Regions from separate parts of the Homo sapiens genome. Here region 2 is linked to region 1. Evidence: fine-mapped expression QTL. A gene starts in region 1. The other region holds a variant in brackets. All regions are shown on one strand. Distances are from middle to middle. Region 1 holds the start of CDK10 (cyclin dependent kinase 10). Region 2 overlaps ZNF276 (zinc finger protein 276).

Region 1 (4,379 bases):
CCTCAGACTCCCAAAGTGCTGGGATTACAGGCATGAGCCACCACGCCTGGCCAACACCCCCATTTTGTATACCACACTCAACTCCCCCATTTTCTACATGCTGATCAAAACCAATCTGAATGGAGTCTAGGTCTGGCTGTGGGCTGTTGGGAAGAGGCCCCCAAATCTGGCCATCAACTGGCCGCAAAACTGGCCATAAACAAAATCTCTGCTGCACTGTGACATGCTCATGATGGCCATGACTCCCACACTGGAATGAGGGCAAGGAACACCTGGCCCACCCAGGGCGGAAAACCGCTTAAAGGAGTTCCTGAACCACAAACAATAGCATGAGCGATCTGTGCCTTAAGGACGTGCTCCTGCTGCAGATAACTAGCCAGACCCATCCCTTTATTTCCCGTAAGAAGTGCTTTTAATCTATAATCTATAGAAACAATGCTTATCACTGGCTTGCTGTCAATAAATATGTGGGTAAATCTCTGTTCGAGGCTTTCAGCTTCGAAGGCTGTGAGACCCCTGATTTCCCACTCCACACCCTATATTTCTGTGTGTGTTTCTTTAATTCCTCTAGCGCCGCTGGGTTAGGGTCTCCACGACCGAGCTGGTCCCGCAGTGGGCAGTGGTTTGGGCCCGACCGAGCTGGTCCCGCAGTGGGCGGTGGTTTGGGCCCGACCGAGCTGGTCCCGCAGTGGGCGGTGGTTTGGGCCCGACCGAGCTGGTCTCGCAGTGGGCGGTGGTTTGGGCCCGACCGAGCTGGTCTCGCAGTGGTTTGGGCCCTGCTTGCTCGACTGGATTTCAACAGTGAAGCCAGATTAGAGGACATGCTGGCTGCCCCGATCCTGGACCTGGACCAATGGTGCTTCCTAAACATTCCATGTCAACTTTTCTTTTTCCACCTTCCAGGGCTGGGCTGTGAAAGAGATTGGAGAGGCAGGTGCCTGTGAGAGAAGCTTCTACCAGCCTGGGAAGTCAGGTCTTCCATGAGTGAGGGGAGGTATCTACTTTGCCAAACCTTGTTAGGGAATGCTGACATAGCTGCCTCTTCCTGCCCAGAAGCTAAGCTTGAATGCCACCCCTCACAGAGCTTCTCTCCTGTCTTTCACTCACTCCTGCTTATTTCTGTGACAGAACTTGACAGCATGGACATTGCCACTTGCTTCCTTCAGTCTCCTGGAGTCCCCATGTCCTGAACACAGAGGAGGCACCCAAATGCTTGCTGAAGCCACATCCCTGGACCAAGTGACCTGACCCTCACCTGGAGGACCTTCACCTTCACCTCTCACCTGGAGGACCCTCTCACCTGGAAGACTCTCTCACCTGGAGGACCACCCCACCTGAAGGACTCCCAACTGGAGGACCCTCTTACCTGGGGGACCCCCTCCGCTGGAGGACCCTCTCACCTGGAGGACCCTCTTACCTGGAGGGCCCTTCACCTGGGGGACTCCCCCACCTAGAGGATCCTCTTACCTGGAGGTCCCCTCACCTGGGGAACCCCCCCCCCACCTAGAGGATCCTCTTACCTGGAGGGCCCTTCACCTGGGGAACCCCCCCCCCCCACCTAGAGGATCCTCTTACCTGGAGGACCCCCCACCGAGAGGACCCTCCCCCCCCACCTGGAGGACCTCCCCACATGAAGGACTCCCACCTGGAGGACCTTCTTACCTGGGGGAACCCGTCTCACCTGGAAGACCTTCACCTGGGTAATCGCCGTGGCCTCCCACTACGGCGCAGCCGGGTCGGCTGCCCGGGCTTCACCCTAAAATAAGGCCCGAACTGCAGCAGTCGGAGCCGATCCCTGGAGCCCAGCGCCTAGGGCGGACCCGCGGGAGCGTCTCTTGGTAACCGTTGCTAAGGAGAGGAAGCCCGGGAAGGAGCTTTCGCGCCTGCGCCGCGGGGCCGTCCGCGTCTGCGCCTGCGCGCAAGAGAGGCGGGGCCAGCGCTCGGCATGGCGGAGCCAGATCTGGAGTGCGAGCAGATCCGTCTGAAGTGTATTCGTAAGGAGGGCTTCTTCACGGTGCCTCCGGAACACAGGGTGCGCGGGGTGCCACCCGGGCAGCTCTGCCCGCCTCGCTAGCGGCACTGCCCGGCTGGGTCTGGGGAGCCTCGTGTCGCGCTGCCGCGCCGAGGCTTCCGGCACGGGCGGGAACGACAGTCCCAGAGTTCCCCGCGGCGGGGGCGGAAGCCGGGGCGGGGCGGGCTCAGGACCCCCGACAGCCGGTCCCTGGAGATCTGAGGGGCCGGGGCGGGCTCAGGGATGCCTCGCGCCCGCGGAGAGACGGGCCCGGGACTTGGGAAGAGCAAGCTCCGGGATCCAGCTCGGGCGCTGCTGGGTTCAGCGCCCGAGCTGGGCTTTGCAGGCTGAGCCGCGAGCCACTTGTTTGTGGGGAGAATTTACACCCGCGACGAGTTCGAGCTTGAAGGCTCCCGCTGGGCTTGGGCTGCATGGAGCGGGGTCCAGCGCTGCCTGGCGGCTTCACGCGAACCCTGGGCGCGTCCCTTGCGGAGGTGCCGGTGCCTCCCTCTGCAGAGACCAGGAGAGAGCCTCTGGGCGTTGGGCGGTGTTGCCCAGGTGCACGGCTGGTGGGGGTGGAGAGCCCTGAACTTTGGCCGCTGGTTTGTGTTTTTAACTGCTGGCTGGTGCTCTGAGAGGCCAAGCCACGTGTTCAGTAAGAATCATTAACAGATCGTGGCTGGATGACAACAGGAGCCACACTTTACTCATCCAGACGTGCAGCAGGCGCTCACCGCGTTGAGAGCCGTGTGCTGGACTCTGGGGTGAAGTAGTGAGTTGGCCTTTTCTTTTTTGTTGTTTTTTTGAGACAGGGTCTAGCGCTCTCGCCCAGGCTGGAATGCAGTGGCGTGATCACGGCTCAGTGCATCGTCAGCCTCCTGGGCTCAAGTGATCTTCCTGCCTCGGCCTCCCAAGTGCTGGAATTACAGGCGTGAGCCACCGCCCCCAGCCTGGCCTGGCATTTCTTTGAGTTCAGGAAGTGTGACAAGGATTTGGACACCCAGAAATAAGCGTGTCGAGAAGAGCACAAGCAGAGGATGTGAGAAGGGGAATTAAGGCGGGAAAGGGAGTTTGAGACTAGGCCATCAGTGAGTGACAGGCCAGATGCTTCTGACTCGGTCCCCAGGTGTCAGGAAGGAATCAGACTGAGGACAAATGCGGCCAGTGGCTCACACCTGTAATCTCAGCAATCTGGGAGGCTGAGGTGGGAGGATTGCTTGAGCCCAGGTTTGATACTGAGGGTTAAGAGAAGGGAAGCCGGGAAATGGGGGCTGTGAGGTTTCAAACCTTGCTACGTGTGCTTTTTTTTTTTTTTTTTTTTTTGAGACGGAGTCTCATTCTGTCACCCAGGCTGGAGTGCAGTGGCGCAGTCTCGGCTCACTGCAAGCTCCACCTCCTGGGTTCACGCCATCCTCCTGCCTCAGCCTCCCAAGCAGCTGGGACTACAGGCGCCCGCCACCACGCCCAGCTAATTTTTTCATATTTTTAGTAGAGACGGAGTTTCACCGTGTTAGTCAGGGTGCTCTAGATCTCCTGACTTCGTGATCCACCCACCTCAGCCTCCTAAAGTGCTGGGATTACAGGCGTGAGCCACTGCGCCCGGCTTACATGTGCTTCTTAGATCCATGGAGAAGGATACAGACTCTACTAGTTCAGAGACCCCAAAATACAGGGCCTCAAGATGATGCCTTTTTTCACTCTCCCCTAACATTCTGGAGAGAAGCAGTTGTTTTGCACAGGTGGGTCAGGCATTCTGGTTCCATTTTTTCTTCCCGTCACTGAGGTGAGAAGAGGTGAAAGCTTCCTTTCACCTGGAAGTCACACGGTCCCTTCAGCTCACATTCCAAGGCCAGATGCCACTGGGTAGCGTTTCATAACTTCCAGGAGGTAGTGATACAGGGATGCTGGGACAGCAGCCTCTGCCACAGATGTATTTTTGTATGTGGGATTGAAAGGGAGTATCTGAGTGGCCGCCTCTGATATTTCTTTCAAAGCATTGGCCCAGTATCGTCACCACCTTTTCTCATCAGAAAAGCCCAAGAGGCCGGGTACGGTGGCTCACGCTTGTAATCCCAGCACTTTGGGAGGCCAAGGCGGGCAGATCACTTGAGGTCAGGAGCTCAAGACCAGCCTGGCCAACATGGTGAAACCCAGTCTCTACTAAAAATAGAAAATTAGGCGGTTGTGGTGGCACCTGCCTGTAATCCCAGCTACTCAGGAGGCTGAGGCCGGAGAATCACTTGAACCCAGGAGGCGGAGGTTGCAGTGAACCATGTTCTTGCCACTGCACTCCAGCCTGGGCAACAGAGCGAGACTCAGTCTCAAAAAAAGAAAAAAAAAGCCCAAACGTGTGGTTGCCTTTCTGTTT
Region 2 (4,379 bases), 42 kb after region 1:
GCATGAGTTACCACGCCCAGCTCAATTTTTTGTATTTTTTGTAGAGACGGGGTTTAACCATGTTAGCCAGGTTGGTCTTGATCTCCTGACCTTGTGATCCACCCGCGTCAGCCTCCCAAAGTGCTGGGATTACAGGCGTGAGCCACTGCACCCGGACTGAGAATAGTAATTTTTAATTATTTTATTTTTTTGAGTCGGAGTCTTGCTCTTTTGCCCAGGCTGGAGTGCAGTGCGCGATCTCGGCTCACTGCAATGTCTGCCTCCCGGGTTCAAGCGATTCTTCTGCCTCAGCCTCCCAGGTAGCTGGGATTACAGGTGTGTGCCACCATGCCCGGCTAATTTTTGTATTTTTAATAGAGATGGGGTTTCACCACGTTGGCCAGGCTGGTCTCGATCTCCTGACCTCGTGATCCACCTGCATCGGCCTCCCAAAGTGCTGGGATTACAGACATGAGCCACCGTGCCTGGCCTAGTAATTTTTTAAATGTCTCAGAACATCCACCAAGTCCAGGCTGTCCTAGAAGGACTGGATCGGAGTCAGTGGAAGGACTGGGCTTTCTGGTTCTGCTGTTCCTGAGGGTTCTGATGCTTGTTGCTGCCTGTGTGCTTCTGGACGTTGGGCTGGCAGGGCAGGATCAGAGGCTGCATAGCACCCTTGGTGGGGATGGGGCCATGGTGGGGAGAACTTGAGGGTCAGGGACCCCAGTCTCCCTTCTAGTCATCAATAGTAGAATCATGCCTCCTTGCAGGTGAGACCTTTCTGTGCTCCGTGTTGGTAACAGGAGCCTTGTTCTTTGTTTCTCAGGGCAGTTGGGTGAGAAGCAGCTTCCATCTTCAACCTCGGATGATCGGGTAAAAGACGAGTTCAGTGACCTTTCTGAGGGGTGAGAGAAGAGTGGGTTTAAACAGCCTAAAATTTCTCCTTCAAAAACCATCAGTGACCTTTCTGAGGGGTGAGAGAAGAGTGGGTTTAAACAGCCTAAAATTTCTCCTTCAAAAACCAAACAGCCATCGTAGGGTCGGCTGCCCATGCGCTGGTACCAAACTAAGCCATCACAGGGGCCGGCTGTCCGTGCCCTGGTTGGGACACGCCTCCTCTCGAGGTGGCGGGAGAGGAGGGGCTGGGGAGCTTCCGAGGCTTCTTGTCTCTGATTGATGGTTTCCTGGGTGCCAGAGAGCACTCCCAGACCTGAGGCAGCTCCAGAGGGAGCCTGATAGGGTTTCTGACCCAGAGCAGCCTAGAAATGAGTTTGTTGAAACCACTCTGGCTGGGTCCTTTGCTTCTGCTACTGTTTTAGGGCCATAGTTTTGTGTTCGCTCCAGATGTTTCTGGAGTAGAGAAACCCCGACTTTAGCCCTTGACTATGACACTGTTGTGGCTTGAAGCCGAGGCTCTGCGAGGAGGTGTTGCAGGAGGACGGGCCTCAGAAGGGACCTCATCAGTGTCTGCAAACTCCCTGGGCCACCCCTGCCTCTGAGCCAAGCGCCATTCAGGGCAGCTGTGCCAGGCTGGGGTTTGCACCGTTTCCACCCTCTCCTGTAAACCTTGGCTGCAACACAGATGCACCTCATCCAAATGAGGACACCCCAGTTTGGGGGCCAATCCCAGTGGGATGTGCAGTGATGAAATCGGGCAGGTGCCAGGAGGCACCTGGGGTGGCTAAGACTGTCCTCAGGACCACCAGGACACAAAACCGCAGCTGAGGTTATAGCATAAAGGCCACAAATCTTTTTTTTTTTTTTTTTTTCCTTTTGTGAACTTTTTTTTTTAGACCGAGCCTTACTCTGTTGCCCAGGCTGGAGTGCAGTGGTGTGACCTCAGCTCACTGCAAACTCCACCTCCCGCGTTCAAGTGATTCTCCCGCCTCAGCCTCCCGAGTAGCTGGGATTACAGGCGCCCGCCACCACACCCAGCTAAGTTTTGTATTTATTTATTTTTTTTTTATTTGAGACGGAGTCTCGCTGTGTTGCCCAGGCTGGAGTGCAGTGGCACAATCTCGGCTCACTGCAAGCTCTGCCTCCCGGGTTCACGCCATTCTCCGGCCTCAGCCTCTGAGTCGCTGGGACTACAGGCACCCGCCACCACGCCCGGCTAATTTTTTGTATTTTTAGCAGAGACGGGGTTTCACTTTGTTAGCCGGGATGGTCTTGATCTCCTGACCTCGTGATCCGCCCGCCTCTGCCTCCCAAAGTGCTGGGATTACAGGTGTTAGCCACCGCACCCGGCCAATTTTTGTATTTTTAGTAGAGACGGGGTTTCACGGTATTGGCCAGGCTGGTCTTGAACTCCTGACCTCATGCGATCCACCTACGTCACCCTCCC[A/G]AAGTGCTGGGATTACAGGAGTTAGCCTCTGCACCCAGCCACTTTTGTGAACTTAGAAGTGACTCATGGCAAACCCATCAGTTGCATAGGGTTCGCAGTTATGGGGTGAGGTGGTCGATTTCTCAAAGTCTGCTTAGCAGGAAGCTACCTTTGAGCGCCTCCACCCCTTCTGGGCCGCTGTGGAAAGGGCTGTTTCCAAGTCCAGTGTCCTGGTGCCCAGAGCACATGGCTTGTGGGGATTGCTGGCTTGTGAGCCTGGCTGGCCCTTTGTGTTCGGAAACGGGATTGGAAATTTGGGGATTTTAGATTTAAGACATTTTCAGAAGAACTCAAATGTGGGACATGGGGGTCCATTTGGTATCTTTAGGCAGGAGGTCGTGTTGGGTCTGTCACTGCCCAGGCCCAGGGCTTTGCTGAAGATTCTCTCTTAATTCCTAGAGACGTCTTGAGTGAAGATGAAAATGACAAGAAGCAAAATGCCCAGTCTTCGGACGAGTCCTTTGAGCCTTACCCAGAAAGGAAGTAAGTGGGCAGCCCGGGGTCTGCTGGAGGCATCCGTTGGGCGACCTAGACACCCGCCTGTGCTCCAGGGCCTCTCCCCGGTGCCCACTCAGTTCACTCTCTCGTGTGCGGATCTCCCGAGCCCAGTGAAACGTGGCTTCCCTCAGTGAGCGGGAGGCGGGGGAGGGGCAGGCGGGCAGGTGAGAAGGTGGGTCCTCCTGGTGCTTTGGAGCTGGGACCTGGTCTCGGCACTGTGAGGCTGCCTCAGAGTCCCAGCAGTGGATGGCAGGTGTCTCTGTCGACAGAACCCCGCCTTGCTTGAGAAGGAGGCTCTTACGTCCCTTCTGCCGGTCCTGCCCTGGGTTCACACCCCAGTGTACCCCCGAAGCCCCCAACCCGTCGCTTCTGCTTTGTGTGCGTCCCCAGAGGCCCGAGGACCCAGCTCTGTCATCCTCCCAGTTCTGACCCCATCACTGATGTCCATGGCCAGGCAGCCACGGTCCACTTCCCTGTTGAATGACTTCTGTGAGCTTGTTTTGACTTTGTTTTTAGGGATTTTTATTTTCTCTCTTCAGTTAGAACACAGGCCCTGGTAGTGAGGGCTGGTTTTCACTTGTGCTGTTTTCTTTGCAGCCCTATACCCAGCAGTACCCAGAACACTCCCAGGTAGTTGGTGACTGACCCAGTCCCTGTCCTTGAGCATTTCACAGCCCAGAACAAAGGTCCAGAGGGCAGGTGGCTCTGAGCACCACCGTCAGCCACTAGAACCCTGCTGTGCAGACTGAGAGGTCAACGGCCTTTTTTCATGGAAGTTCTGATGCTGTTAAGTTCTGAAAAGAGAAACGGGAGCAGTGGAGGAGGCCCGGAGAGAGATGCGAAGCAGAGGGCAGGACTGAGCCAGAGGGGCTGCAGCAGCTTCAGCATGAACAGAAAACTGGTCAGGCCCAGAAAAGGTGCCCGGGGGTCCCTACCCCCAGGCTTGTTCCCAGGAGTCATGGCTGGGAGTGCCGCCTGAGGCTGCTGTACGGAAGCCCCCACTCCGTGACCCTCCGGGTTGAGTCTGAATCCCAGGACACCTGAGAATGTGTCTCTGGCTTGCTGCCCAGAAGGTCTGGGGCTGCTGGTGTGAGGAGGGCTGGGAGCTGGGATGGGAGGAGCCAGGCGAGCCTTTTCCGGATCGAGGCAGATTCAGGAGGGGAGGGTCCTCTCTGCTGAGCCCCTGCTGCTGTGACAGGGACAGCACACTCAGACTGTGTCACTAGTCCCTCTGGGACCCCAGGAGTGCAGACAAAGACGTGCTTTGGAACAGAGACACGGGAGATACGTTTTCAGAGGTCTCTAATAAAAGGGGTGACTTCAGTGGAAACCGCTGCGCAGGAGGCAGGACTGGGTGGTAGCAAGCATGGCCTCCTGACTGCGGCGAGTACCAGGGGCACTTGGTTCCCCAGCTGCCACCGTGAGACCCCCCTGGGAACCCAGAAGGGCCTCTGCACAGCCCCCGGCCCGTGTGCTGCCTCCCAGTCTTGTCAACCCTGACCTTGGAGTTCTAGCGGGC

The links. PIP is the estimated chance that this variant, and not a neighbour inherited with it, causes the effect. A credible set is the group of variants that fine-mapping cannot tell apart.
Region 2: its variant is the best candidate, but not a certain one, in a credible set for the expression of CDK10 in whole blood (INTERVAL, PIP 0.84).

Annotation. Positions count from the first base shown.
Region 1 is chr16:89,684,766-89,689,144 of GRCh38, forward strand. It overlaps CDK10 (cyclin dependent kinase 10), which reads left to right and starts at 1,924. Exons shown (of 13, transcript NM_052988.5): 1 at 1,924-2,032. The coding sequence starts at 1,946. It overlaps LINC02166 (long intergenic non-protein coding RNA 2166), which reads right to left and starts at 2,147. Exons shown (of 3, transcript NR_184152.1): 1 at 1,682-2,147; 2 at 45-910. RefSeq lists a silencer at 2,109-2,358.
Region 2 is chr16:89,726,474-89,730,852 of GRCh38, forward strand. ZNF276 (zinc finger protein 276) reads left to right here. Exons shown (of 11, transcript NM_001113525.2): 5 at 806-884; 6 at 2,762-2,845. Among named protein-coding and RNA genes, the nearest start is that of ZNF276, 7.1 kb to the left of the region's middle. RefSeq lists enhancers at 2,184-2,755, 2,893-3,062. The variant A/G (reference allele first, on the strand shown) is at 2,324.